4 separate regions of the Homo sapiens genome follow, and all the other regions are reported to be linked to region 4. Evidence: microRNA targets listed by miRTarBase, many of them from high-throughput screens and not tested one by one. Region 4 holds a microRNA gene; each other region holds the end of a gene's coding sequence.

Region 1 (7,104 bases), not on the chromosome of region 4:
ATTAGCCTTAATTTTGCACATCCCGTTATATGTACCTCCAAAGAGTTAATTTTTCAGGTACATAACTACTTGGATTAAATGAGCAGACAAGGGCTACTAATCCAGCACTATTTTTCTTTGTCACACAGGAAAACAGCTCAGGCATGTTTGCTGCAGAAGAGACAGGGGAGGCACTGTCTGAGGAGACTACAGCAGGTGAGGCAGGCAAAAGGGGTTCTAACGAAGCAGCATGGTATAGAATCACTTTTACTTTTTGAAAATCTCTTTATTTTCCTGCAATATAGGTGAACAGTCTACAAGGTCTTTTATCTTGGATAAAATCATTGAAGAGGATGATGCTTATGACTTCAGTACAGATTATGTGTAACAGAACAATGGCTTTTTATGATTTTTTTTTTAACATTTTAAGCAGACTGCTAAACTGTTCTCTGTATAAGTTATGGTATGCATGAGCTGTGTAAATTTTGTGAATATGTATTATATTAAAACCAGGCAACTTGGAATCCCTAAATTCTGTAAAAAGACAATTCATCTCATTGTGAGTGGAAGTAGTTATCTGGAATAAAAAAAGAAGATACCTATTGAAAAATGTAAGTTTTATTTACAGATCAGGCCACAGGTTACAAAATTAAAACCAACAGCAGTTTTGAATTATCTGTACCAGCTAGCTGAACTAGCCATATCAGTTCTTCTTTCCAGTCATTCAGCATTGTAGTAAGAAAACACTTGGTAAGGCAGATGGAGACATATTTATAGTCTATAGTCTGTCTGGGAAGCTGACTGCCAGACAGGGCAGTTTGTCATCTTTACCTAGCTGACACATCTTTTTCCATGGCTTGCTACCGATAGGCATTGAAGCCTAGCAACTGTTACTTCCCACGCATGCTATCTTCCAGGACTTCCTGAGAAATGCTTGCTTACAGTTCAAATTCTGTTTCACTTTATGTTTGAGATCTCGGTATATCTTCGGATTAGGTTGAATTTGCCTGTTGGGTCTGGAATATACCATTTTTCCCAAACATCAGTATATGAAGCAGTCCTTCCCCATGGCTTCAAATGTCCATTCCAATGGAGTAACTTGGCAGCCTTTACAAACTGAGGTGAATATCGTTTTCCAGCACTGGAACCTTACATTTGAGACAAAAATAGCCACATCGTTGCGCCATGTGAAATTGTGCAGAAAACTTACTTAAGGGAAACAAAGAATATACCCCATCCCTGAGGATAGTTCTTTAGATACCAATTCTTTACTAGCTTATGCCACTGGTTAATTCTACTTACCAAGGTGGCGGACATTCCACATAGGATCGATGGTAGAGTGCTGTTGATAAAATACGATAAGCAGAGGAGGTGTTGTGATGCTACCAGCCAGGGTTCTGCTATACAGTCCCTCTCTTGGTGGGACAGAAAACAAATGTTTGTTAGTGAAAAGTACTGACTAACTCCTGTTAGTCAAGACTCTAGGAATTGAAATACAACAGTTTTTCACAGCTAGGCCAGTTACATACTTACTCTACATTGAGTTTCATCCATTTTTCCAGTTGGTTAGTTATATTCTGTCGTTTCCATTCCGTCAGGTTTGCAACAAAAACTCCAGGATTAAATGAGCAAGTGCTGGCTTTCATGGAAAGCTTACGAATTCTTTCCTTTTTATAGTCAAGATAGCCAATGTAATTGTACTAAAAACACAAATAGGATATATGTACTTACTGCTTCAAACAAAATAGATACAATTTTATAGCCAGTAGAGAGAAGAGCTGTTAAACTGACTTCTTCAGATTAGAAAATAAATATTTGAAATTCCAAGTTAGAATAGGAACCTAGATGTTGACATAATAAACCAGATGTTCAAGAACAATTAGGCTGTCAAGTCCATGAAGAAGTCTACAGAAAAGCAGGCTTGAGTTTTGGGATGAAATGATTGGGGAGTGTAAATTGCAGCAAAAGAGTTCCCTGAATTTGCAACCTCTTCCCATTAAACAATATTGTAGGAAGAGGGGTGTTTGGTAAGCAATTTACCTGGTTTCCTGCTCCACGGATGACAACTTTAGTAGAGGCTGAATCACAATCTTCTGAAAATGCAGCTGCATGTCCTGGCTTCAGTGCTGTATTGTAAAGGGCAAGAATATCACCTGAAATAGACAAGATGTTAAGATTTACATTTCCGTTGCCTTGAGAGTTCCCTGTTACTCCCACTTCTCCCTATGGTGACCTTTTATAGAAGACCATAAATAAACCACTACAGCCCACTGTAGCCCATTGTTTTATTTAGCAATTGTACCCAATCTGGGTGGAGAACAGCACTCATGGTGACATTTTTGATACCTTGCACAATTACATCATCATCCATGTATATGGCCTTCTTTGCGCTGGGAACCAGAATTGGCAAGTAGAACCTTGCAAAGGTTAACTGGAAAAGGAAAGAATAATTGGCATAGGATACCGCACTAGCTGTGCTTTTATTTACACAGAAACTCCTAGGATGCTTTCAGTACCCATTCAGGAGAAGAAAGGACTCTTAGAACCACCCAGGCTTGGTCCCCAGGAAACTACTTGCACTATACCCACAGATACCCAGGTATTCCATTATTTCCTAATACTGCCAAGTGCAAAGAAGGATGCATGGAACTCACAGGTTTCATGGATTCCCCCTGGTCAGGATCCTCCTTTACTTTTCCTTCCAAAAGTTTAGGGTCAAAATTGACAATTTTGTATCTGATGCTTTTCAGGGAATCACTGTTGAGCCAGGACCTGATGAAGATAAAACACTACATTTTAGTTTCAAATAATGTCTCCAAACCAATGAGGGAATAATGCAAAAGAAACCCTATGGACCAAATAGGTGTTTTCAAGCTCCTTTTATCTCTGAGCTTTGGTTTCCTCGTCTGAAGTGAGGGTAATTCCCACCAAAGTCCCTCCCTGAATTAAGATTGTATGGTAATTATCTTCTAACACTAAAACTACTCTAGAAAAACTATAGAATTAAGAACATTTCATCACCACCTGGACTATCCAACTCTTAACTGTGGTGACCCTAATTCCACCACTCAAGTCTGAGGCACTACCTGTAAGAAAAAACTGTTTGCTAAAGGAGTACTGCACATTTTTTCTAGGTCAGTTTCAAATCAGTGTTTTGTGGCTACTTAGTGTTATTTCTGTAGTCTATTTTTATACAGCTTCTGTTTCTGTATTTTAAATGCGTTCAGAATTTACAGCTTTAAAAACTAAATATGAACCATGCAGAGGGCCACAAGGACCAAAATGTTTCAGAAATTTGACAACTGGTTAATTTGTTAGACCAACAAATTTGGAGTAAGTTTTATAAGTCTTATTCATTTTCAAAATGGATTAGACTATCCAAGTTTCCCCAGATCACTCTGGGCCAGGATTTGGATCAGGATCTGTGATCAGCATCACAACACTACCTTGCCATTGTTGCTAAGTCCCTTCCCACTCTAGACCAGAACTGCTCCGAGCATGTCCATGAAATAAGGAACTTGTGACTTGTAAATCAACATTTACTGCTCCCTTCACTGAGAAAGTATTATTATCAAAACACCATCAGGTGGGGTTAACAGTTCAGAGTGACAGCTGACTTACTTCCTGGCATGAGCTCCTTGTATCACTTCTCCTATTATGGGGATATGCTCATAATACAGTCCTAAAAAAAATATGTCATTTGTACAGTTTATCACTGGTACAATTTCAATTGTATAAAACAACATACAAACCACAGAAAAACAGATCCTGGATTGGCAGCTGGCCTGCTCTAAATCATCCTCTAGAAGCAGAATCACATAAGCAGAGCTCACCGGAGATGGTCTGCTGTATTGTTGAGAGTAACAATGTAGAAAATCACATTGGAGCGAGTGTTGTGCTGAATGCTGTTTATAGCTGCAATGGCCCCCCCAAGCCTGTCTTCAGATGCAGCGATGACCACAGGAATCTCCTCTTGTCTCCCATCTACTGCATGTCGGAGAGCATTTGGGACAAAGTCTATAGGTTGAGGCCCTACAATTCCTGAATCTGAAAACACAAGGAAGGCACTGTGATTACAATCTCATGGGCTTTTGATATAGAGTCCAAGACATGGAAAAAGGGAAGGTAAGGATTATGGTACTGATCTACCTCATTCTCCCCCATTAAACTGAAGCATATAGCCCTGAAACTTTCCCTGTATGTAAATAAGCTTTTGGAAAAGTGGAGGAAGCATTTTTTAAAATACACTGACAGCACTTTGGTACACTACTGGTAGGAAAATAACAGAACCTGTTAGAATGTATTATGGCAATTTGTATCAAGAGTTTCCTAAGGACAAAATCTGAAATATAATCAAAAGAAAGAATTTTATTTAAATTGTGAAAACTTAGCAGCAAACTAAATCAATGTTTTTCAAGTCACGAATCACAAGTAGGCATGAAACCAATTGAGTGAGTCACAATCAATTTATACAGAAAAAGTTTCTGGATTGCAATAGAAAACTGAAATAGAGGCCGGGCATGGTAGGTCACGCCTGTAATCCCAGCACTTTGGGAGGCTGAGGCGGGTGGATCACTTGAGGTCAGGAATTTGAGACCAGCCTGACCAACATGGTGAAACCTCATCTCTACTAAAAATACAAAATGAGCCAGGTGTAGTGGTGAACACCTGTAATCCCAGCTACTTGGGAGACTGAGGCAGGAGAATCGCTTGAACTCGGGAGGTGGAGGTTGCAGTGAGCCAAGACTGTACCACTGCACTCCAGCCTGGGCAGCAATAGGAAAACTCCATCTCAAAAAAAAAAAAAGAAAACTGAATTAGAATACCAAAGAAAACATAGTGTATCACACAAGGAAACTGCAATTACTGTCCTGTATGCATTCTTGCCTTTCATTTTTTTTTTTTTATTCCTCATTGAACCCTGGTATTTACTATGTGCCAGGCAATATCTAGGCACTGGGGTTACAGCCATGAATAAAACATCCCTAACTTTCTGAGGATAGACAGCCAATAAGCAAATACACATGTATGTACATGTGCTACATGTAATGTATTTCCTATTGTAGGGCTGCCATCAAAAAGTCTGAAAGCTGTTGTAGCAAAAGATGTTATCCTGTGGAAACAAATTAATAGACATTAAGATTATGTATGAAGAGTTTCTACCATCACAGTGACATGATATACAGAAAAACATGTCATGTACAGTTTATATATAGTACAATCTCAACTGTACAGAAAAAAAGATGTGTAGGAAAAAACTGGAAGGTACTAAGCCAAAATTGTAAATGAAATCATTCAACCAACTAATATTTATTGAACAGCTAGTATCAGCCATCATCCATAGGCACAGAAGATAAAACAGTACACAAATTGCCTTCATGGAGCTTAAATACTGTTGTCTCTTTTTTTTTTTCTTGAGACGAAGACTCACTCTGTCACCAGGCTGGAGTGCAGTGGCGTGATCTTGGCTCACTGCAACCTCCGCCTCCTGGGTTCAAGCGATTCTCCTGCCTCAGCCTCCCGAGTAGCTGGGACTACAGGCGCATACCACCACGCCCAGCTAATTTTTGTATTTTTAGTAGAGACGGGGTTTCACCATGTTGGCCAGGCTGGTCTTGTACTCCTGACCTCGTGATCTGCCCACCTCAGCCTCCCAAAGTGCTGAGATGGTCTCGATCTCTGACCTTGTGAGACGCCCACCTTGGCCTACCAAAGTTTTGGGATTACAGGCATGAGCCACTGCTCCCGGCCGCTGTTCTCTTTTTTATAAACTTTCCTACCAGGAACATGCATTACTTTATATGTATCATACATATATACACGTGATAAAACATGCTATCAGAGCACTCCGTGAAAGTCAGGGGAAAGCTATTACAGTCTCTCACTCTGGTCAGCTATGGTGGGTGGCAATCCAAAAATGATTTTTGACAAACACTCAAGCCTCAAACATTTCTCAGTACCAAGGGAGAACAGTATGAACGACTAATTCAATATACTGTGCGATATATTATACAACACAGTGATTTTTAAAAATCACTTGACAAACTTTTATTGCTACAGTCCCACTGATGCAGCTGCACAGCTGAAGGAAAGTAACTAGACTGACACTCTAGTGACTAGAGCAGGCATCAAACACCAAGGACACTGGTATGCCCTCACTTTCTGAAGCCCTGTCCTGCTGACATGTGAACAGATGGCAGCCCTCAGAGGCTCTCCTAAGGCCTCTGATTTGGTGAAAAGGAATATTCTGTCAGATCAAACCCTTAACAAACAACTGCTAGTACTACCGGAAGAAGAACAACTTAGGATGTGTGACACAGAGAATACCAGGTCCGCAACAGATTCTAAGGCATTATTAATAAGTGCTCGCATACCTGTAACCTCATTCCTTAACAAACTGCTCAAGCTGAGGAAGTTATGGTGCAAAACCAGTAAGAAGAGAGCAACAGCCAGGACCAAGATGATGATGTTTACTGAAATAGATAGGGAAAACCTATGTTATACCTCTTTATCTTTGACCAGGTATAAAAACAACTTAACTTGTAGAAAGAGCATACCTTTACGGAATGACATCTTTTTCTTCTGTCATATAAATATTAGTTTTTAACCCTACAAAACAAAAACAAGCCCCCAAAGTCAGTAAGCACATGAGAAGGGACATCAAAATGCCCTAACACTTTTTTTTTTTTTTTAATTCAGGAAGAAACAAGAGGCATATACAGTATTCCGCCAGAAACTCATTTTGAATTCACAGTTCCCAAGAACCCAATTTGGGATCTGAAATTTTTGTGGTACTCATTAATAAAAAACTTAAAAATAAGTTGGAGAAACAGCCTTAGCCTTGTACATTATACATCACAAGATGAAAAGCAAAAGAAACATTTAAGAATTAAGTTTCAGCCAGGCAGGGTCTGGCCTATAATCCCAGCACTTTGGGAGGCCGAGTGGGGTGGATCATGAGGTCAGGAGTTCAAGACCAGCCTGGCCAAGATGGTGAAACCTCGTCTCTACTAAAAACTGCAAAAAAATTAGCCAGGTGCAGTGGCAGGGGCCTGTAATCCCAGCTGCTCAGGAGGCTGAGGCAGGAGAATCGCTTGAACCTGGGCAACAGAGGTTGCAGTGAGC
Region 2 (7,118 bases), not on the chromosome of region 4:
TGTCCTAGGTTGCTGGAAATGGAATTGCTGGGTCAGAGAGAACGTGCGCGTGGTCAAGCCTGCTGAGTGTCCTCGCTGCAGGAGGGCCGTACTGCTCGGGCTTCCTGGTGCACCGGGATGCCCACCCCCACTGTGCCCTACAGGGACCTGCTTCCCTTTTATTTCCTTTCAGGGCCAGGGGTGCACTGTACGATCCCTCCCCAGACGCAAAGCTGTGTCTGTCATGAGGCTTATGGGCATGTTTGGGCTGGTCCCCAGAGTCACGGCATGTTTGATGCAGGGACGCTGTGCCCCAGCTGGTTCTGTGTGAATTGTCTGGTCCCAGACATCGCTTTTGCTTGGTTGCTGGTCTTTCTTTTTCATGAGGTGCTGGGAGGGGCAGATGCTGCTCCTGTTCCTCCTGATCCTGTGGATACCCTTGGAAAGAGCCAGCTCACTGGATGGATCTGGGTCTGCCTTCGGCCTCCTCTCTGTGCAGCTGGTAATGAGAGGTGCAGGCGACCACAGGCCTGGAACTGGGCTCACATGGCACTCTTCACAGGTGCCTGGACTACGTGCTGGAGGAGCTGAAGCACAACGCCAAGGCCAAGGTGATGGTGGCCTCCCACAATGAGGACACAGTGCGCTTCGCACTGCGCAGGTAGGTGTGCCCCACCCTGCACCGAAACCCCAACCTGAGCCGTTGTCTCCTCCAGCTGGGGAGAGGTGGCAGCAGTGCAGAGCTCAGGGTGGGCAGAGTGACCTGCTGGGTGGTCGGGCATTTGTGGGGAAAGGCTGGTGAAATGAGCTGGAGGGTGGCTTCAGTGGGCAGGCCCAGGCCCGCTGGCATTCTGGACATCGGACTGTGAGAGCACAATGGCTCTTTGCAGTTACGTTGGTTTTTAAAATTAACTTTTTTTTTTAGATAGAATCTCGCTGTCACCTATGCTGGAGTGCAGTGGCGTGGTCTCAGCTCACTGCAACCTCCGCTTCCCAAGTTCAAGCAATTCTTCATGCCTCAGCCTCCCAAGTAGCTGGGATTACAGGCATGTGCCACCACGCCTGGCTAATGTTTTGTATTTTTAGCAGAGACAGGGTTTCACCATGTTGGCCAGGCTGGTCTCAAACTCCTGGCCTCAAGTGATCCTCCCTTCTTGGCCTCCCAAAGTGCTGGGATTACAAGCATCAGCCACTGTACCCAGCCTTTTAAAAATTAACATTTGACTTATTAAACTTCACAATTAAAAAACTAAATTTCATCAGGGTATTCGGATGGCTCCTGAAAGGTACAAATGTAGTGTTGGAGCCCAGTCCCTCAGGAGGCCTCCACAGCGCTGCCTCATTTATAAGCAGTTCCCTTAACATTTTAACTACATCTGGAATGTAACGGTTTGTTTTCTCTTTAAACATTTGTCCCATGGAGCACAACTTCGGTAGAATTCTAACAAGTCAAATGCAGAAGTTAGGTGAAGTCAGTTCTTGGATACTCCTGTACTGTCACCCTGGTCTTATCTCATGCCTTAGCCCAAGCTATGCACACAATGGGGTCCTAGGTCCCCCTCCCCTCCCAGATTCCGCCTTCCCAGGGATGGGACCCCCTAGAACCCTCGGAGGCCTGGGCAGTGGCCTCGCTGGCTCTCGCCTTCCTAGGAGCTGAGCAGGAGCTCCACTCTCAGCAGGGCAGGGTGCCCCAGATCCATGACTTGTGGCACGAAGGGGCTCCCCAAGAAGCTGTGAAGCCACAGGGCCAGGCTTGGGGCCAGGGCTGCAGCCAACAGGACACATCCTGGTGCTGCTCGGGAGCTGACTCACGGCTCTGAAATCATTCAGTGATGTCCACATTCAGCCTTTGTTTACGATGCTGCTACTTTTTCATGGCCTGAAATTGCAGCACACCCATTTTTGTGCCCTGATCCTCTGCTAATTGTCATAGATGTGTCGGTGATGGGACAGACTCACTTTCTCCACACGCACAGGCCTGGTGGCCAGCACTGCCCAGCACTCGGGAGCTGGTGGGGGTTCCTCTCAGCTTGTAATCAGGACTCCCAGCCTCTGGGTGGACTCTCAATGCTGGTGGACTCACAGCCTGACTAGACACATCACCATCCAACTCCGAAAGGACAGCCCGCCCTCAGCAGGGCTTCCTCTCTCCAGCTTAGCCCCGGCACCTGTCTGTCCCTACTATCTTGCTGTGGCAGTGGCTTCCCCAGTGGACACAGCTTCCCCCTCCCGAGTGGCAGCCGGGCTCTCTCCTCTTGGCCCCAAGGGCCCTGTGCCGGGCTCCCCCAGTACCATGCTCACATCCCTGCCTGAGAGGCTGGACCCCTGCAGGCTTCAGCTCTGCCCCTGCTGTGGGTGGCTGGGGAGCTCTGGGGAGCTGGGGTCCCCTCCCATGGGTAAGTGGTTCTAGACTATGGCAGCTGCTCTGTCCTGTGCTGGGCCCAGACTGCCACACCACCCACCCTCAAACAACCCGAGTTGGCTTTGGCCAAGGAACAAACCAGCCCCAAACTTAGAGGCTGGAACAGTGGCATGTTCTGTAGGCCAGGGGTGGGCTGGCTCAGCTGATGCTTCTGCTGCTGGCTGTGCCTGTGTCCCTCCTGCGTCTGTGATCTGGGGCCGGTGGGGCCTAATGAGCTCATTCATGGCTGGTGTAGTAAAGGAGACTACATCCTGGGTCCAGCGTCCCACAGGCCAGCCCAGGCTTGGGCACGTGGTGGGCTCAGGCTTCCAGAAGGCCTGGAGAGGGCAAGCCTCTGCTTGTGTCACCTTTGGTACCTCCCTGTTGGCCAAAGTGCCTCACGAGGCCAAGCCCAGATGCCAGGTGGAGTGAGCCACTGTCCTGTGCTGGGAGGAGCCGCAGTCACATGGCAGAGGCTGTGCACACCAGCAGGGGAGGGGGCAGCCAGCAGTGGCACCCGGCTCTCGGGTTCATGTCCTGGGGTTGAGGAAGACACAAGATGGAAGCCAGGGCGATGTGGCAGAGATGGGTGCCTGCTTTAGACTGGGTGGTCCCGACACTGGAGCCCAGCCCAGGGATGGAGGGAAAGGGCCTCTGGCCGATGGGTACTCTGGGAGCCAGGGCTGGGGCAGATGGAGAACAGGGGAGGTGAGGCCCTCGGGGAGGGAGTGGGAAGCACAGCACAGGCACTGCCAGTCACCCGGGTGATGCGTGAGCAGCAGGCGGAACTCGCCCCAGGCTGGGGGACCCAGTGCTGTGCAGACCAGCGAAGTCGGGATACCTGGATATAGTAAGCTGGAGATGAAACTTGAGAACTGTCACTGCGTGGATATTTCAAACCCTGAGAATCTTTGTAAGACCCTATACGGGGTGGTGTGAAGACAGGACAGAGTGGAGGCCCCACCCCAGTATCTGAGCAGTGCTAATAGATGTATAATGCAAGCCACATCTGTAATTTAAAGTTTTTTGGTAGCTACGTTAAAAGATAAAATGAATTTCAAGAATACATTTTAATTAACCCAAAATATACAAAATATTACTTCAAATTGTATTCAAGTTGATTTTAGAAAAGCAATGCGGCATCGTGCATTTTTCTAGAAAGTCTCCTAAATCCCGTGTGTATTTGACATTTGCAACACATCTCGATTCAGAGCAGCCGCCTTCCGAGGACTCGGGGGCTGGTGGCAGCTGTGTGGGACACAGCAGCTGTGGGGATGGGGCAGAGCAGCAGCCCACAGAGGGCGAGGGCAGGGGCCGGAGACCAGTCATACCACAGAACCCTGGAGGGGCTTGAGGAAGGGATGGCAGGAGAGCTGAGGAGCTTCTCTGCCCTGTGGGGCAGGCTGCTGGGTGGGTCAAAGCCCCAGAAGGGCTGCACCTCCAAGAAGGGAGGTAGAGGAGAGGTGGGAGAGAGGAGGGTAGGGAAGGCAGGAGGGGGGCCTTGTTGGCTAAGGGCTGAGGCCTCCCCAGGGAGAAGAGTAGGGCAGCCCAGCAGAGTCCTGCTGGGAAGAGGCCTCACTGGGAGAGGGCCGGACAGAGCCTATATCCCAACCCCACTTCAAAGGGGATAAAGTCTGGAGAGTGTAGATGGGGGACCTGGGGTGGCAGGACAGGGTCAGAGCTGGGACAGGGGCCCTGTACCCCTGCACCGGGGACAGTGTCCTGGAATTAGCCCTCAGCTCCTGGCTTTACCTGCACAGGATGGAGGAGCTGCGCTTGCATCCTACTGTACTTTGGACAGCTGCTAGGCATGTGTGACCAGATCAGCTTCCCGCTGGGTGAATGGGGCCCTCCCTGGTGCGATGGAGTGTGGTGCTGGGCCTGGGCCTCATGGCATTATCTGCCCCCATGCAGGCCAGGCTGGCTACCCTGTGTACAAGTATAGGGCTGTAGGTGCTGTCATACGTGTCCTGCCACGCCCTGGAGAACAGCAGCCTCGTGAAGGGTGCCCGTCGGGAGCGGCAGCTGCTGTGGCTGGAGCTCTTGAGGTGGCTCCGAACTGGCAACCTCTTCCATTGCCCCACCTAGCACCCCCCCGCCCCCGCCCAGGCCATCACCACAGCTGCAGCCAACCCCATCCTCACACAGATTCACCTTTTTTCACCCCACACTTGCAGAGCTGCTGGAGGTGGAGTCAGGTGCCTCCCAGCCCTGCCAATGGTGGGGGCACTCAGGTGTGGGCTGACCCTGATACCTGCCTGGGATAGCCGCTGGTAACTGTTAGGAACTTTCCTCGGATGTGTGGGCCCAAGGCCCCCACCTCTGTGACCCCCATGTCCTTGGACCTAGAGGATTGTCCACCTTCTCCCAAGGCCAGCCCACATAGCCCGAGCCCCTCGGGGAGCAGTGGCCGGGCTGGGGAGGCCTGCCTGGTCAATAAACCACTGTTCCTGCAGCTGAGAGCCCTTTGCCCTCACACAGGGTCAGCTCTGGGCAACAAAGAGGGAGTGGCTCAGACAGGGTCAGAGAAGTCTCATCCCAAACTCTGGCTTCCAGCATCATCTGTTCCTGGAGGCCAGGCCCTGCGCAGACCTGGCCACCCAGGGTGCTGGACACCCCCAACCCTGACTCCACAAGGACCCAGCAGGGCCCATGGGCCCAGGCCAGCACGGAGGGGACTCATGCAGATGCAGAAGCCAAGCTCCCCAGGTGGCCCTGGCATGCCTCCCCGCAGGGCTCCTCCTCAGGCCATTCCTGCCACCCTGAGTCCTCTATCCCAGTGACCTGCATCAGGCTCCTCCTAGTGGTTCCCACAGGACACTGACCAGGCTGCGGCAGGCGCATACTTGCACTCCGGGCCTTCTCCCATGCTCTCCAGCCCCCAGCCCCACAAAGCAGGCTGGATGTGGTCCTCATGCCCTGGGGCTTGGATGGGGGCCCCTGTACAGATGGCAGTGACAGCATCCTGGGACCAGGGCTGGGGCAGGAAAGGCTGGAGGGTCCCAGTCTCCAGGCAGGGGGAGGGGTGGTGGGCTGGGCACACAGCCCAGGAAGGGGCCCCCAGGTAGAGGCCTCTGCTGCAACAGAGGTGGGGGCCCTACCAGGGCCCCGGTTATGGCAGAACCTGCAGCTATCACACAAGCCACATTTGGGCCACACTGAGGCATCTTTATTTCTCTGGGTCACACAGAGCTTGGGCCTGGGAGCCTCTTCTGCATGGGGGCTGCAGCTGCCAAGGGAGCGGCTGAGACCAGAACAAGCGCTCGGGTGGGCCCCAGTGCAGGTTGGGATGTGCCCGGTGGAGTAAGGTGTGAGAACCCCCAGCCTCACTCTCTGCCTGGTCCTGAAGCAGACAGCAGCAGGCTGGCCCAGCCTCCCCTTTATGAGACTATCCTAGGGTTTGACAGCAAGTCCCAGATGAAGGGTGACAGGCAGCTGGGGTCCACCTGGTCTCTCCTCAGCAGGGGGAACCCCCTGCGGGCAGCTGGGAAGGCAGTGGCCAAAGGTCAAGAAGATGAACTCTGCCCAGACTTCTGCTGCCTGTGGCTATGGTGGGACAGGGCTGCCTTTCTGGTCACACTGGGCAGCAGGCGACTGCCAGGGACCTCCCAGTCCCAGGGCTGCATTCCCTGCCCGGCAGCCCCTCTGCTGCAGCTTTCGGATGAGTTCCAGCAGGTTCATCTGCAGCATCAGCTCCTGGGATACAGAGGGGCCCCATGAAGGCCAGAGTGACCCCCAGGCCCCTTTCATCCCGGCCCAAGGGTGCCAGGCAGTGAGCCCACGGGGGCGACCATCCTGTGAAGCCTGGTCATGGCCTGCCAGGACAGGGTGGAATCTGAGCTTCTGCCCCCAACAGGGCCACTCGGAATCTGAGCCTCTGCCCCCAGCAGGGCCACTCGGAATCTGAGCCTCTGCCCCCAGCAGGGCCACTCGGAATGGCATGCGGGAGGGGAGCAGAAGAGGGCCCTGTGTGGCACAGCAGGCCTGGAGAGGGTGGGCAGTGCCCATGGCTGGCTGGCTCACCCTCCTGTAGGGAATGGGCCTGGCCTCCGTGCTGGGAATGGCACAGAAATCCTTTCCAGAGCCTCAATCCTTCCACTTCACCCCCATACCCTGAGCCTGGCTCCCCAGGGACCAGCAGTAAAACCCCAGATGGAATGGGGCCCCGGGGCACTCGGGCTAGGGCAGAGCAGGCCCAGGCACTGACCTGTGGGTTGGTGGTCACGTAGAAGCCAGCCACCCCCGCCTTCTCCAGTGTGCTCTGCTGGTCAGCCACCTTCCGGTCCAGCTCCAGGATGATCTTCTGGTCCATCGCCCGCTGCTCCTCACGGATCCGGTGTTCCACGGCCTGCCATGGGGCCAGGGCGCGGAGGGGGAGAGGTGAGGGCAGCTCTGCCATCAGGGGGCGGGGAGGTGAGGGCAGCTCAAACACATGCTCCTGCTGCCGTCCCCAGTGGCAGCAGCTCTGACACCACCGGTGCATCCTCACCACACCCAGGCCTCTCCTCGGCCATGTGAACCCCTGAAGGGGGCCCCAAGGGGCTTCCACGAATGCCCTGGCTTGGGACTGCCTTAGGACCACACACACATCTCCACAGGCACACCCTGCCCCACGGCTTGTTGGTTACATGCCAGTCTCTGGTTGTCCCTGTGCTCCCTGGGAGAAGGATGGGCCCCTTCCTGGCCCCAACACCCTACCATTGCCTTTGTACCCCCCTGAGGCCACCTGCTCTGTGGA
Region 3 (7,118 bases), not on the chromosome of region 4:
TGCATAAAAGACCTGATTTTGATCCCAGCTCTGCCATCCATTCAGAGTGTGACCTTGAACACATCACTTCAATTACTGTGCCTGAGTTTTCTTCTCCAGAAATTAGGGGTGACTGTTCTGACCCTGCAGGGGACTTATGATTAGACACCATTTATGAAAACACCTGGCATGTGGCAAGAATGTAACATTTCTTGAATTTAAATTCATCTTTTCTGCTACATCTAAACTGTACTCGGCACCTGCTCCAATCAGCATTCATTATCTAGTCATGTCTGGGTTTAATAATTCAGTTCCACTCCCTGTAGTTAGTGACAACCTCTGGTCACTGCCGCCCAAGGAGAAGTCAGACCTCTCACCTAAACCACTGCCACGGCCTCCTAACCACCTTCCCATCCAGCCATCTGGCCCAGCCTTACAGAATTAATCACTACTCTGCTCAAAACCTTCAACAGCCCTCCACTGAGAGAGCACAAAATTAGCCATGGCATTCGCACGTCCCCTCTTCTCCCACTCCCATCAACCTGTTGAGCATAGTTCTCTGCATGCTCTGAGACCCAACTCCAGGCCATGTGCCCTGCACTTTCTCATCTCCACGCCTCTGCAGACACCACCAGCCTCTCACCTTGATCCTTTCCTGCTATGCCCTGACAAAATTAGTCCCATTCTATTCTGCACTCCAAAGTAATTTTCTTTGTAAGTGTCGCTGCATTTTTCATATCTTACTTTGGCTAAGTACCATCTTTGAGGCATCATTCATCCAGTCGGTATGTCTATCTCCTGTGCCAGGCACTATGCTAGGCTGTGCAAACAGCCCTAACAGAGGGTTCCTACCTTCAAGCCGCTCAGCACCTAGCCGGTACAGACTGTAAACAAGGACAGGTAAGAACTGTAATAACGGTCTGTAACGTTCTCGGGAAAACCAGGAGCTGTCTAGCTTACATGAAAACAAGTTTCTGGAAACCCTGCGTCAAACAGGGCCTTTCTGGTTTCAGTAAGGAGAAGGGGGAGCGCGCATGTGACATCTGGGGCTCAGGGTTAGCTGGCATCCCCACCAACGGACAGAGGTCCACAGGTCTGTAAAGTCAAGTCCCTCTCCTCGCCGCCCTCACCTGGCCCTCGCCCAGGCTCCTGGCAGCGGGCCCCGGCTCTCGGTCACCAGCGTCACCTCCCATTTACCAAATCCGCAGCGGCGCCCAGCGGGCGGACAGCCGTCTCTGCTGACCCAGAGCGCCCACCCACGCCCTCGGCTTTCCCCGCCCCGCAGCCCCGCGGCCCCGCGGCCTGGCCGTTTTCAGCTCGAGCGCGAGCCCAAACAGCGCTCCGTGTCGCGGGGCGGCCCGAGGCCGGCCAGAGGCGCTTCCCCGGCCCCGCGGCCCCCGCCCAGCCCGGCCCCGCGACTTCCCGCCCCAGGCTGCGGCTGGCTGTTGCTCCTGGCCCCCACGCGGCGCTCACCTCCGGGCTGGGGGGCGCCCCCCGCGCGCTAGGCAGCGGCGGGCCCCGAGACGGCTCCGCGGCCCCCTGCGCCTGGGCCCCGGCGGCCTGAAGGTCCATGCCCTGCGGCCCGCGGCTGGTCGCCCTGGACGCCGTGGGCCACGTGACGCGCCGGCCCGGCTGCCCGCCCGAGGATCCGCCGCAGAAGCGCCAATCAGCCTGGGGAGGGGGTGGGTACCGGCCAAGAGGGCGGGGCGCGGGGGTGTCACGAGCAAGCGGGGGCGGGGCGGCGCAGGGGGCGGGGCGCGCGGCCTCGCGGAGCCCGCCCCTCCCTCCCAGCGCGAAATCTGAAACAATCTCGGAGACGGATTTTGGAAACTCCTCTCGGTGCATATCCTAAGGCTGCACGACTAGCTGCGTGTGAAACGCCAAGCGTACCCTACTCGGCCACTCGGGGTGTGCTCCAGCTTCAAAACCCCGCGTGGGTAAGACACATGAGCAACCCAGTGACCTCCACCTTGAGCTAATGATCGTCTTTGAAGTTAATCCATTAGAAACCAAGATAGATGATTAAGACACAAACTGCAATATGCAGTGGACACAGAATACAGGCCACGACGCTTACTCATAATAATCCTGAACATTCGGGATTCCTGTATTTCCATGCTCAACGCCTGATACCGACAACCTAATTATTTCCCATTTTGCCTCGAAAGGTGGCTTCTGGGGATAGGCAGGGCCTGAGCTGGGAACAGCCCAACTGGAAAGACAGCCTTCCCTGCCTTCCCCACAGTGCCTAACCTCTAATAACAAACCAGCTCAAGGTGTGCTAATCACGTCAACATCAGGACATGAGACCCTCTTCCTTCATCCCCCTCAAAGACTGTGTTGTTTGTACAACACAAAAGGCATTTGAAAAAATTTAGCATAAAACTGACACACAATATTCGATATTATTTTTGTTCTATATGTAGATGTTCCTACACAGGAGTCAGTATCCCCAAGGCTAACTGCCTCTAGGTCAGCAATGTCCAATAGAACGTTCTTTAATGGTGGAAGTGGAAATGAAAGTTCTACTATCTGTACTGTCCAATATAGTAACCATATACCTACTGAGCACTTGAAATGTGGCCAATGTGAATAAATTGAATAATTCTAATAAATTTAAATTGCTACATGTGCCTTGGAGCTACTGTTTCTAACAGTGCAACTCTAGGTGTACTAGCTAGATGTGTTTTCATAACCTGCAATATTGAGAATCAGATACAGGGATGTGATGACCCCAGGTGACCACCCTTATAGCCTTGTGTTAAGGAGACTACCACTATCCTCTTTGCTCCCTAATCTACATATCTCTTTCGTAAAATTAAAGTGCCAAATAAGATTAAGAATGTTAAACATCCCAGGACTTAAGGGACAGGAAAAAGAGGAATTTTTTTCTTATTTTAAAACAAATGACAAGAAAACAGGGGCTGGCCGCGGTGGCTCACTCCTGTAATTCCAGCACTTTGGGAGGCCGAGGCAGGCAGATCACTTGAGGTCAGTTCAAGGCTATCCTGGCCAACATGGTGAAACCCCATCTCTACTAAAAATACAAAAATTAGCCAGGCGTGGTGGCACACACCCATAATCCCAGCTACTCGGGAGGCTGAGGCAGGAGAATCACTTGAGCCCGGGAGGTGGAGGGTGCAGTGAGCAGAGATTGCCCCACAGCACTCCAGCCTGGGCGACAGAGTGAGACTTGGTCTAAAAAAAAAAAAAACCAGAAAGAAAAAGAAAACAGTACAAAAGCTTAAAATAAAAATGTTCTAAAGTAGACTCTAATACTCATAGAAATTTAATATATAATAAAGGTAACATCACAAATCAGCAGAGAGAAACATAACTGCCCAAATAGTGTTGGCAAAATTAACTGCTTGGGGAAAAAGAGTTGTTCTCAGCACCAGGAAGAGCTTCCAAAGCATTTTAAAAACAGACATCACACATACACACACAAAATACCTCTGGGCATCAAAAATCGCCACAAAAGGTGCCTATAATCCCAGCTACTTGGGAGGCTTTGGCAGGGAGAACTGTTTGAACCTAGGAGGCAGAGGTTGCAGTAAGACCACACCACTGCACTCCAGCCTGGACCACAGAGCAAGACTCTGTCTCAAAAAAAAAAAATCACCACAAACAAGGCTGGGGGTAAAATTATTTGCAACAAATGAGAAACAAGATATTAATATTCTGAATATGTTTTTAAAAACTCTGGCCAGGCACAATGGCTCATGCCTATAATACCAGCACTTTGGGAGGTTGAGGTAGGAGGATTGTTTGAGCCCAACTGTTTAAGAGACCAGCCCTGGCAACATAGCAAGACCAGTCTCTACAAAAAAAAATTTAAATTAACCAGGCATGGTGGTGTGCACCTGCAGTCCCAGCTACTCAAGAGGCTGAGGTGGGAGGATCTCTTGAGCCCAGAAGTTAAGGCTGTAGTGAGCCATGATCACACCACTGCACTCTAGCCTAGGTGACAAAGCAAGAACTTGTCCAATTTAAAAAAAAAAATTAACTCATAAATTAGTAAGAAAAAAAATTTTTAAATAGTCTAAGGATGTAAAAAGATGAGAAACATAAAATACACTAACTTCACTAATATCAAAGTATGGTAAAACAATGACATATCACATTTCACCTATAAAATGGTAAAAATAAAAGATATAATTACACCAGTACAGGTAAGGGTACTGACACTTTCATGTATTGCTTGAAAGAAGGAGCAAACCAGCAATACATATCAGTATTCTCTAAAAGCAGTATCCTTTGATCCAGTAATTCCACTGTCGGATGTCAATCTCCTAAGGAAATGGCCAGGGATGTGAACAAAGATTGACAAGAATCTTCATCAACAGCATTTATCTAATTTTTAAAAAAATTAGAAATGACAGTCCAGGCCAGGCTTAGTGGTTCACGCCTGTAATCCCAACACTTTGGGAGGCCAAGGCGGGTGGATCATGAGGTCAGGAGTTCGCAACCAGCCTGGCCAATATGATGAAACCCCCGCACTACTAAAAATACAAAAATTGGCTGGGCGCGGTGGCGGGTGCCTGTAATCCCACCCAGCTGCTCGGGAGGCTGAGCCAGAACCACTTGAACCCGGGAGGTGGAGGTTGCAGTGAGCCGAGATGGAGCCACTGCACTCCAGCCTGGATGACAGAGCAAGGCTCCATCTCAAAAAAAAAAAGACAGTCTAACCAGAGGATTAGTAAAATATATTATGGCTCATTTTTACAATGTAATGTTACGAATTCATTAAATGTTTTTAAGGCTATTTAATGACACAGAAAAACAATACTAAGTGAAACGTAACAATAAGCTACACTGAAAGCTTCTCCCAGTGACAGGATGCTTTTTTTTACCACACTATTCTATTTCCTCCATATTTTCCAGAACAAATGCATACCACGTATCTTTTATAATGAGAATAAACCAACAAAACTGTACTTTCTCCTTTTTTTTTTTCCTTGAGAAGGAGTTTCGCTCTTCTTACCCAGGATGGAGTAGCAATGGCATGATCTCGGCTCACTGCAACCTCCGTCTCCCAGGTTCAAGCAATTCTCCTGCCTCAGCCTCCCAAGCAGCTGGGATTACAGGCACCCACCACCACACCTGGCTAATTTTTGTATTTTTAGTAGAGACGGGGTTTCACCATGTTGGCCAGGCTAGTCTCAAACTCCTGACCTCAGGTGATCCGCCTGCCTCAGCCTTCCCAAAGTGCTGGGATTACAGGCGTTGAGTCACCATGCCTGGCCACTTTCTCCTTCATTTTAACTGGCTCTTAGGTCGAGATTAGAGATACTCATGCTTGACCTGGGATAATTTTAAAAAAACCCAGTCGTATGCTATCCATGTATTTTGGGAAACATTTAGGACCTGTGGAAGATCGGGCCTCAACATTAAATCAGCAATTCTCTTTACTGGAATCAGATTAGCACATCAAACTGAGCAGTGTCATGCACCTATAATCCCAGCTACTCAGGAGTCTGAGGTGAGAAGGTCACTTGAGTCCAGGAGTTCAAGACCAGCCAGGGCAACAGAGCAAGACCCAGTCTCAATCATAAAAATTTTTTAATTTTTAAAAAGATTTAACAAGTTAACATAAAATTAAAGTGTGTCTCAAAACCAGACAGCCATCTTGTCTGCCATCACTGAGCAAATTACAGATGGACTCAATACAAATTTGCCCACGGGGCTTGCTTGCAATACTATTTCACAAAGCTGACTGTATTCTTCATCTTCATAAATGGCCAGTCTGATGCATAGCATGTTTAGCTACAAATGCCTCTGCTGACTCTCCCTGCAACATTTTCATCGCTCGCCAGTAGATCTGTCCACAGTTCTCAGGTCTACCAAGGGGGTGGTTCAATTCTTCTTTCATATAATCCATCCAAAGATCTTTTAAAAAAAAAACATACAATTAGATAACTGACAGAGTGTTATTAGGTAACCTTATTAAATATCAATTCAACTCAAGATTTCTAAGAAACTTAACTTCTCATTGTTACTTCCCTAGGACGCTTTGTTTAACAATACCTCTCTTAGCTTCTTTAAAGTATAGTGGCAGGTTTTGGTTTGTTTTTGTGTGTTTTTTTCTTTTTTGAGACAGGGTCTCACTGTGTTGCCCCGGCTAGAGTGTAGTAGCGGGAACATGGCTTACTACAGTCTCAACCTCCTGAGTTCAAGTGACCCTCCTGCCTCAGCCTCCAGGGCAGCTGGGAACACAGGCACACCACCATATTAGGCTAATTTTTTTATTTTTTGTAGAAACAGGGTTTCACTATATTGCCCAGGCTAGTCTTGAACTCCTGGGCTCAAGCAATCCTTCTACCTTGGCCTTCCAAAGTGCTGGGATTACAGGCGTGAGCCACTGTGCCTCATCAGTTTTGTTTTTTTGTTTTTTGTTTTTTTTCCCAGTAGAAAACCTTCACATCAATCATAAAAGTCTATTTTATTCAATGAACTCAAAAATACTAAACTTTTTGGCTAGGCACAGTGGTTCACACCTGTAATCCCGGCACTTTGGGAGGCCAAGGCGGGCGGATCACCTGAGGTCAAGAGTTCAAGACCAGCCTAGCCAGCATGGCGAAACTCCATCTCGACTGAAAATACAAAAATTAGCCGAGCATGGTGGCACGCGTGCCTGTACTCCCAGCTACTTGGGAGGCTGAGGCACGAGAATCGCTTGAATCTGGGAGGCAGAGATTGCAGTGAGGCAAGATTGCGCCACTGCACTCCAGCCTGGGTGACAGAGTGAGACTCTGTCTCAAAACAAAATAAAAATAAACAAATCAATGTTTATGAGTTCACAAAGTCCACAGATTTTACATGACATACCTATACCCAGAAGTATGTTGTACAAGTCCTACAAATGAGGGCAATGTGGAGATAGTCAACAACAGACGCCAATTAGCATCTCACGTTTACCCCTTTCATGTAACTCTAAATACATTTTTTTTAAGAAAACAAAACCATGCAAATCTTTCTCTAATCCAGAGGGGGTGTTTTTGGTTTTTGTTTTTGAGACAGGATCTCATTGTATTGCCCAGGCTGGAGTACAATGGTGGCATCACAGTCATTGCAGCCTCAACATCCTGGGGCCCAAACAATCCTCGCACCTCAGCCTGCTGTGTAGCTGGGACCACAAG
Region 4 (7,118 bases):
GTGTGGCTGTGTGTGGTCAGTTGGGGAATGATATGGTGTCTCCAAAGTGTCAGAGACCCAAGCACCTCTTATCTGATTACTATACCATTCTTATTTGATTACTCTACCACCCTCAAATGGTGGCATCCATTCTTTAGTTTAAGAGGGCTGCTTCAGTTATTACCAACACATCTGTATTCCAAGCAGTGAGAAGGGAAAGACAGGATCTTTCTCCTTAGGAGAATGACCTAAAAATTGTACATTCACTTCTGTTTACATCCCATTGACCAGGACTTAGCCTGTTGGCACACCTACCTTCAATGAGGCTAGTAAATGTGGTCCTTAGAATAATTGGATATCTAAGTCCTCTCAATGTTGTTTTCTTATAGTAACCCCTTATTTGTCCTTTTCTACTTTCTTCCTTTAAAAATCACTGATAAATATGTAATTGAAAAAGTCTCTTTTTAGTCAATATTAAATGATGCTGATAGTGGCGGGGCACAGTGGCTCATGCCTGTAATCCCAGCACTCTGAGATGCTGAGGTGGGTGGATTGCTTGAGTCCAGGAGTTCGAGACCAGCCTGGGCAACATAGCAAAACTCCATCTTTACTAAAAATACAAAAAATTAGCCAGGCGTGGTGGTGTGCGCCTGTAATCCCAGGTATTCAGGAGGCTGAGGTGGGAGAATCACCTGAGCCCAGGACATCAAGGCTTCAGTGAGCCGAGATCACACAACTATTACAGCCTAGGTGACAGAGTGAGACCCTGTCCAAAAAAAAAAAAAAAAGAAGATGGTGATAGAAAAACTGCAGGAAAAAACAAAAAAACTCCATAGAATCATTGCCTATCAGCTGTTTGATAAACACTTTAAGCTTGTAGCATTCTTCAACTATTGACTTCCGGTTCTACCTCTTTCTCTAATTAGCAGTGTGATTTCAAATATGTCACTTGACATTTATGCTTGGTTTTCTGCAAAAAGAAAAAAAGTAATATTTAACTGTCGGGGTTGTTCATGTGATTGAATGAATTTATGGATGTAAAAGTGTTTTGAAAACTAGAAAGCACAGTGCATATGCACAATGGATGGTATTGTTTTGTTGTTACTGCACACTGCACAATGCCCTGTATTGAGGCACAGCTTTCCACTGACAGAATCTTGAGGTGTTACAGTTCTGGAGCAGTTACCTTGGTCCTATTTCTAGACTCCAGGGGCAACCTGGTGCTTCACTACCAGACTCTTCCAGCTGGGGATGGGTTCCCTGGCCAACTGCAGATCCAGAAGGCAGGTCAGGTTACTACCTATATTTCTTAACTGCCTGTTAAATAAGCAAGGAGTCCTTTTGGTTTTTCTTAGTGTATGTATGTATGTATGTATTTATTTTTGGAGACGGAGTTTCATTCTTGTTGCCCAGGCTGGAGTGCAATGGCACGGTCTCAGCTCACTGCAACCTCTGCCTCCTGGGTTCAAGCAATTCTCCTGCCTCAGCCTCCCAAGTAGCTGGGATTACAGGCATGCATCACCACGCCTGGCTAATTTTTGTATTTTTTTCAGTAGAGATGGGGTTTCACCATGTTAGCCAGGCTGGTCTCGAACTCCTGATGTCAGGTGATCTGCCCATCTCAGCCTCCCAAAGTGCTGGGTTTACAGGCGTGAGCCACCATGCCTGGCCCCTTAGTTTTTTAATATTAATATTCATTGGAGGTACTGTCAGCAAAAATCCAGAATTACAAGTTAATTTTTCCCAAACTCACACAGTAGAGGTCCCTGTACCTTCACTGAATTGCAAGTTCACTTTCTACCCTGAGTTACTCATGTCTTCAGTTTTGCTTTTCTTTGTTCTTTCTTTCTTGTTCATTCATTCATCAAGCACTTTATTGAGTCCCTACTATGTTCCAGGCACTGGGTATCGTAGGTGCCTGGAACATAGTAGGGACTCAATAAAGGAGCTATGCTTCCTTTATGTGAATTAAATGTCACTGATGTAGCTGGCATTTAGTAGGCTTTCAGTAGGTGTTGGTTTTCTTTGTCTGCCCCTCATTTTGCTTAATTAACCTACCAAATGCATCTTTGACTCTAGTGTGTCCAGAAGAAATGGACAGTGTTGATGCTCTAAACATCCCCAGCGTAGATTGTTTTTCAATGTGCACAACACAGATAAGTCACTTCAAAGTCCATAGATAAAGGGGCTTCTTGCTGATTTCATCAGAATGAGTAGAAATTGCAAGATAATTTTTGTTTTGCCTCCCACCCCCAGCTTCATGTACAGATCACACTGACAGAGTATCTTCAGCTTTTATCTTTCCTCCCTTCCTTGATCTGCCCTTCATCAAAGCATTTTAGTTGTAAAGTTAAATAGGGAAGAATGAGGAACGAGGCATAAATCATCCTAACTTCTTGCCACCCTCCAACCTTATATTCTCAAAAGACATCATTGGACTGCACCATTGTTTTGGTAACAATACACCAGTTTTAAAGTATTTTCTTGTTACCTTTCTCCTTTTTGATATTCATCTAATTTTCCTTTCTTTTGTAGGCTGTCAGCCAGATGAAACAGCAAAAATATCCAACAAAAGTCTCCTTCAGTTCACAAGAGATACCATTAGCACCAGCTTCATCATACCATTCAACAGATGCAGACTTCACAGGCTATGGTATGATTCTTTCTCTCAGCAGATCTGGCTCATTAAGCCTTAGAGAAGGCAAGGGATCATAATGTCCTAAAACGAGAACTGGACCAGGAGGCAGAAGTCTGACTCTGGATACTTCCTCCGCTTCCTTAGCTTTGGGGCTTGGATAGGTCACTTCATTTCCTACATCATTTTTCCTCCTCTCTGCCATCGCCATTGCCTGTTGCTTTTTGAATATAAGAGCACTAGAACAGAACAGGACCTCAGTAGGTCAGGAGTTCAAGACCAGCCTGGCCAACATGGTGAAACCCTGTCTCTACTAAAAATACGAAAAATTAGCCAGGCATGGTGGCGCATGCCTGTAATCCCAGCTACTCGGGAGGCTGAGGCAGGAGAATCGCCTGAACCCAGGAGGCAGAAGTTGCAGTAAGCTGAGATTGCACCACTGCACTCCAGCCTGGGTGACAGAGTGAGACTCTGTCTCAAAAAAAAAAAAAAGGAAAAGAAAAGGACCTCAGTAAATGTTATTTGAATCTGAGGCTTCTGTATTATTCTTCTCTAATCTCTACAAAAGATTATATTTAGGTCTTGAGTAATATCTCTTTAAAAATCCTATCAAACCCAATTTTTAGCCCTGCAAATGTTGCTTTAAGCTGTTTGAAGAATGTTGATTTTCAATGCTTAAAGAAATTGGCATGCACATTCTGTCTTTAAATTCCTGGCTTGAATTATGCTGACTGGGGGTTGAAAATAGAACTTTATAAAGAATAATAGGTATTTCTACTTGCTTTTTTTTCTTTTTTTTTGAGACAGAGTCTCATTCTGTCACCCAGGCTGGAGGGCAGGGGGCTGATCTCAGCTCACTGCAACCTCTGCCTCCTGGGTTCAAGTGATTCTCCTGCCTCGGCCTCCTGAGTAGCTGGGATTACAGGTGCTCACCACCATGCCCGGCTAATTTTTACATTTTTAGTAGAGATGGGGTTTCACCATGTTGGCCAGGCTGGTCTCAAACTCTTGACCTCAAGTGATCTGCCTGCCTCGGCCTCCAAAAGTGCTGGGATTACAGACGTGAGCCACTGTGCCCAGCCCTACTTTGCTTTTGTGCAGTATACATCAGTAAAAAATAAAACTCTTTAAAAGACAGTACTCACCAATGGCAAAGCATAACCCTGCATTAATTTAGCAGTTCTGAAATCTTTGTGGTATTTGCCTTTTATATATTTTTTCATAAATATTAACTTCATAAAGTTCATCAAGCAGGTACTATTTTAAAGCATTGTAGATGTACTAAAACATTTGATGCATGTGGTCAGAAAACTATGGCGCATGGGTCAAATCTGGCCTACCAGCTAGTTGTGTATGGTCTACAAGCTAAAAAAGGTGTTCACTTTTTAAAGGTTGAAAAAACACCTAAGAAAATTTTATTAAAATATTCTATGAAATTCATATTTCAGTGTCCACAAATACAGGTTTATAGACACTCATTTGTTTCTGTATTGTCAGTGGCTTTTTTCACACTATAATGATGGAGTTAAGTAGTCACAACAGAGACAGTCTGGCCTGTAATGCCCTATTAAAATATGTATACTTGGCACTTTACCAACAATGCATGCTGACTATGGAGGTAGACAAGTTGAGTTTTGGTAATATATATCACATATTTATACTTAGATGACAGAAATTCAGCATCCTTCCTGGTTTTCATTCTCATGGTTAAATAATAAATAAACAAATAAATAAATAAATGAAGTTCATCATCCTACAGTTGAATCTATAGAAATTTTATTCATTTACTCATCTACTTACCAAGCATTTATTGAGGACTTGGTATGAGCTGGGTTTGGGGCTGGATTCCATGAGAGAAGTAAATAAAAAGATTGACTCAGGACTGGCTAGGGTGAGGCAAACGTGGAGGAGGGAAAAGAAATGCCATCTCCAGGATGTCTCACCAGGTTTTTTTCTCTCTTCTCACTCAGGAGACTACGCTAGTCATTTACAAAGGCAGTATAAACTTTTTATTTACTTATCTATTTATTTATTTGAGATGGAGTTTTGCTCTTGTTGCCCAGGCTGGAGTGCAATGGTGTGATCTCGGCTCACTGCAACCTCTGCCTCCTGGGTTCAAGTGATTCTCCTGCCTTAGCCTTCCTAGTAGTTGGGATTACAGGCATGTGCCACCATGCCTGGCTAATTTTGTATTTTTAGTAGAGACAGGGTTTCACCATGTTGGTCAGGCTGGTATCAAACTCCTGAACTCAGGTGATCCGCCCACCTCAGCCTCCCAAAGTGCTGAGGTTACAGGCGTGAGCCACCGCACCCGACCTAAAAGCAATAGAAACTTTTTAAAGCACCCATGAAAGTGTGCCACTATCGTACGTCATTTTTATTGTAAATTAATGGGAAATGTGGTATAAAATACATATGCTGCAAAAAGATTTAAAGACAAATTTGGTTTACAATTTAATATTCTGCCTTGCCTGTATCTTACCTAGAGCCTTTCTTTTTGTCTTATTGGCAAGATTTTTCTATAAAGAAGTCGATAGTAAATATTTTAGGCTGTGGTCCACACAGCCTCTGTTGTAGTTTCTCACCCCTGCCATTGTAGTGTGCTAGCCACCATAGGCTGGCCATAGGCTACTTCTAAATATGGCACTTTTTATGGTTGTATCACTGAATTTCTTGCTGTTAACCAGGAGGCCTTTAGATTAATAAATTCCATATGGATGGGAACAAGATATGTGAATACCCACAATGTGCCAGACTCTGGGCCGGGCACCTCACACACACTGTTCATTTAGTTTCTCTAACAGCCTCTTTAATAGTGGTTACATGCATTTTTCTGATGAGAAGTGAGCTCCACTTTCACCCTCCTGTTAAATTCCTGCTTAGGAACTCAACTGTGGCTCTGTGCCACTCCAAAACCTGTGCCTTTTCATCTCAAAGACCATGATTATCACTTAGTTAGAGCAGAACCCCCACAGGCTTACCTAGAGCCTGTTTCTTTTTGTTTTATACCAGAGATTGACAAGCTTTTTCTATAAAGAAGTAGATTGTAAATATTTTAGGCTTATGGGCCACACAACCGCTATTGCAGTTACTCACCCCTGCCATTGTAGTATGCTAGCAGCCATAGGCTAGGCATAAATGAATTAGTGGGTTTGTGTTCCAATACGACTTTATTTATAGACACTGAGATTTAGACTCATATCATTTTCACATGCTTTGAGACATTATTTTTCTTTTGATTTTTTTTCAAGCTTTTGAAAGTGAAAAGCCATTCTTGATCCGCGAGCTATAGTCCGCTGACCCCTGCTTTTACATAGGTTTAATGAGCACTGGGATCTCATCTCAGCTCTGTGCATTAGCTGCAGCTGACCAGCAGATGGAGCCCTCTCTCATCAGCCCTTTCCTGAATTATATCATAATGTAAGAAACAATACTCATGGTGATCAAACTCAGTTATCAGAAAATATGACATTCTCTGGAGACTATGATTTGTATGAGCATCTCTTGAAGCTATTCAACATTTTATATGAGCATCTCTTGAAACTATTCAACATTTTGAATGTTTTGAGGTTTCGTTGTTGTTGTTGCCATTTTGAGACGGAGTTTCACTCTTCTTGGCCAGGCTAGAGTGCAATGGCGCGATCTCAGCTCACTGCAACCTCTGCCTCGGGCTCAAGCGATTCTCCTGCCTTAGTCTCCTGAGTAGCTGGGATTACAGGCATGAACCACGCCCAGCTATTTTTTATATTTTTAGTAGAGACGAGGTTTCACTATGTTGACCAGGCTGGTCTCGAACTCCTGACCTCAGGTGATCCTCCCACCTCAGGTGATCAGCCTCACAAAGTGCTGGGATTACAGGCGTGAACCACCGTGCCCGGCTGAATGTTTTGAGTTTTTAATAGGTTATCTGGAAAATGCATGTGTGTAGATTTTATGCTGGATAAACAGGTGTTAGTAAACATTTTTTCTTAGCCTATAAACATTTTTTCCCTCACTCTTTGGAAAAACCCAACCTAAAACAATTGTTTTTAAAAATAAACCTTTGTAAAAAAGCAATAACTTTTAAATAAACTTTTCCTCTATGAACCCCGCAAGTAATTTTTGAGTCTTGTGTTTATAATATATTTTGCTTTACTATATATGTAATATATTTGGGGATAAATTTTAGGTAATTGTTATTTTCAGGTATTTCATACTTTATTGATTAAATTCTTTATACATCTTAATAATTTAATTCATCTGATATGCTCTAATTGAAAGTATTTAGGCATTGTTTCTTAATTAGTATCCTATAGCTCAGAATCTCCTGTTATACCAGCCTTTATTCTCATTGTAACATAGGCCTTCATATACCTAATCATTTAATCATTGTAATTTTTCCATACAGATTTTCATGATGTATTTTAAGATTTTAAAACTTTTAGCCAGGTGCAGTGGCTCACACCTATAGTCCTAGCACTTTGGGAGGCCAAGGCGGGCGGATCACCTGAGGCCAGGAGTCCGA

Evidence for each region. The annotated mature microRNA hsa-miR-3116 reads UGCCUGGAACAUAGUAGGGACU and lies in region 4 at 1,859-1,880, opposite strand. An mRNA with a match to its seed (bases 2 to 7 or 8) in the 3' UTR can be bound and repressed. Matches are read on the target gene's strand: a 7mer-m8 pairs with bases 2 to 8, a 7mer-A1 pairs with bases 2 to 7 and ends in A, and an 8mer does both.
Region 1: miRTarBase lists GNL3 as a target of hsa-miR-3116. Seed matches in the 3' UTR shown: 7mer-A1 at 489-495.
Region 2: the mRNA of DGCR6L is a reported target of hsa-miR-3116. Seed matches in the 3' UTR shown: 7mer-A1 at 5,715-5,721.
Region 3: miRTarBase lists UTP6 as a target of hsa-miR-3116. Seed matches in the 3' UTR shown: 7mer-A1 at 5,217-5,223, 7mer-m8 at 4,618-4,624 and 7mer-m8 at 3,557-3,563.

The regions. Positions count from the first base shown.
Region 1 is chr3:52,693,909-52,701,012 of GRCh38, forward strand. It overlaps GNL3 (G protein nucleolar 3), which reads left to right. Exons shown (of 15, transcript NM_014366.5): 14 at 129-195; 15 at 285-589. The coding sequence ends at 367. GLT8D1 (glycosyltransferase 8 domain containing 1) reads right to left here. Exons shown (of 10, transcript NM_018446.4): 2 at 6,537-6,588; 3 at 6,354-6,452; 4 at 3,813-4,026; 5 at 2,634-2,751; 6 at 2,326-2,410; 7 at 2,020-2,132; 8 at 1,513-1,679; 9 at 1,282-1,394; 10 at 578-1,127. The coding sequence starts at 6,552. The coding sequence ends at 937. Among named protein-coding and RNA genes, the nearest start is that of SNORD69, 4.7 kb to the left of the region's middle.
Region 2 is chr22:20,308,749-20,315,866 of GRCh38, forward strand. It overlaps DGCR6L (DiGeorge syndrome critical region gene 6 like), which reads right to left. Exons shown (of 5, transcript NM_033257.4): 4 at 6,588-6,728; 5 at 5,490-6,076. The coding sequence ends at 5,927. It also overlaps the pseudogene PRODHLP. Among named protein-coding and RNA genes, the nearest start is that of DGCR6L, 7.8 kb to the right of the region's middle. RefSeq lists enhancers at 4,670-5,225, 5,226-5,779.
Region 3 is chr17:31,857,649-31,864,766 of GRCh38, forward strand. UTP6 (UTP6 small subunit processome component) reads right to left here. Exons shown (of 19, transcript NM_018428.3): 19 at 3,256-5,868. The coding sequence ends at 5,711. COPRS (coordinator of PRMT5 and differentiation stimulator) reads right to left here and starts at 1,596. Exons shown (of 4, transcript NM_018405.4): 1 at 1,453-1,596. The coding sequence starts at 1,551. RefSeq lists an enhancer at 583-1,257 and a silencer at 1,317-1,746.
Region 4 is chr1:62,076,936-62,084,053 of GRCh38, forward strand. It overlaps MIR3116-2 (microRNA 3116-2), which reads right to left and starts at 1,921; the gene lies at 1,854-1,921. It overlaps PATJ (PATJ crumbs cell polarity complex component), which reads left to right. Exons shown (of 44, transcript NM_001350145.3): 32 at 2,515-2,632. MIR3116-1 (microRNA 3116-1) reads left to right here and starts at 1,851; the gene lies at 1,851-1,924.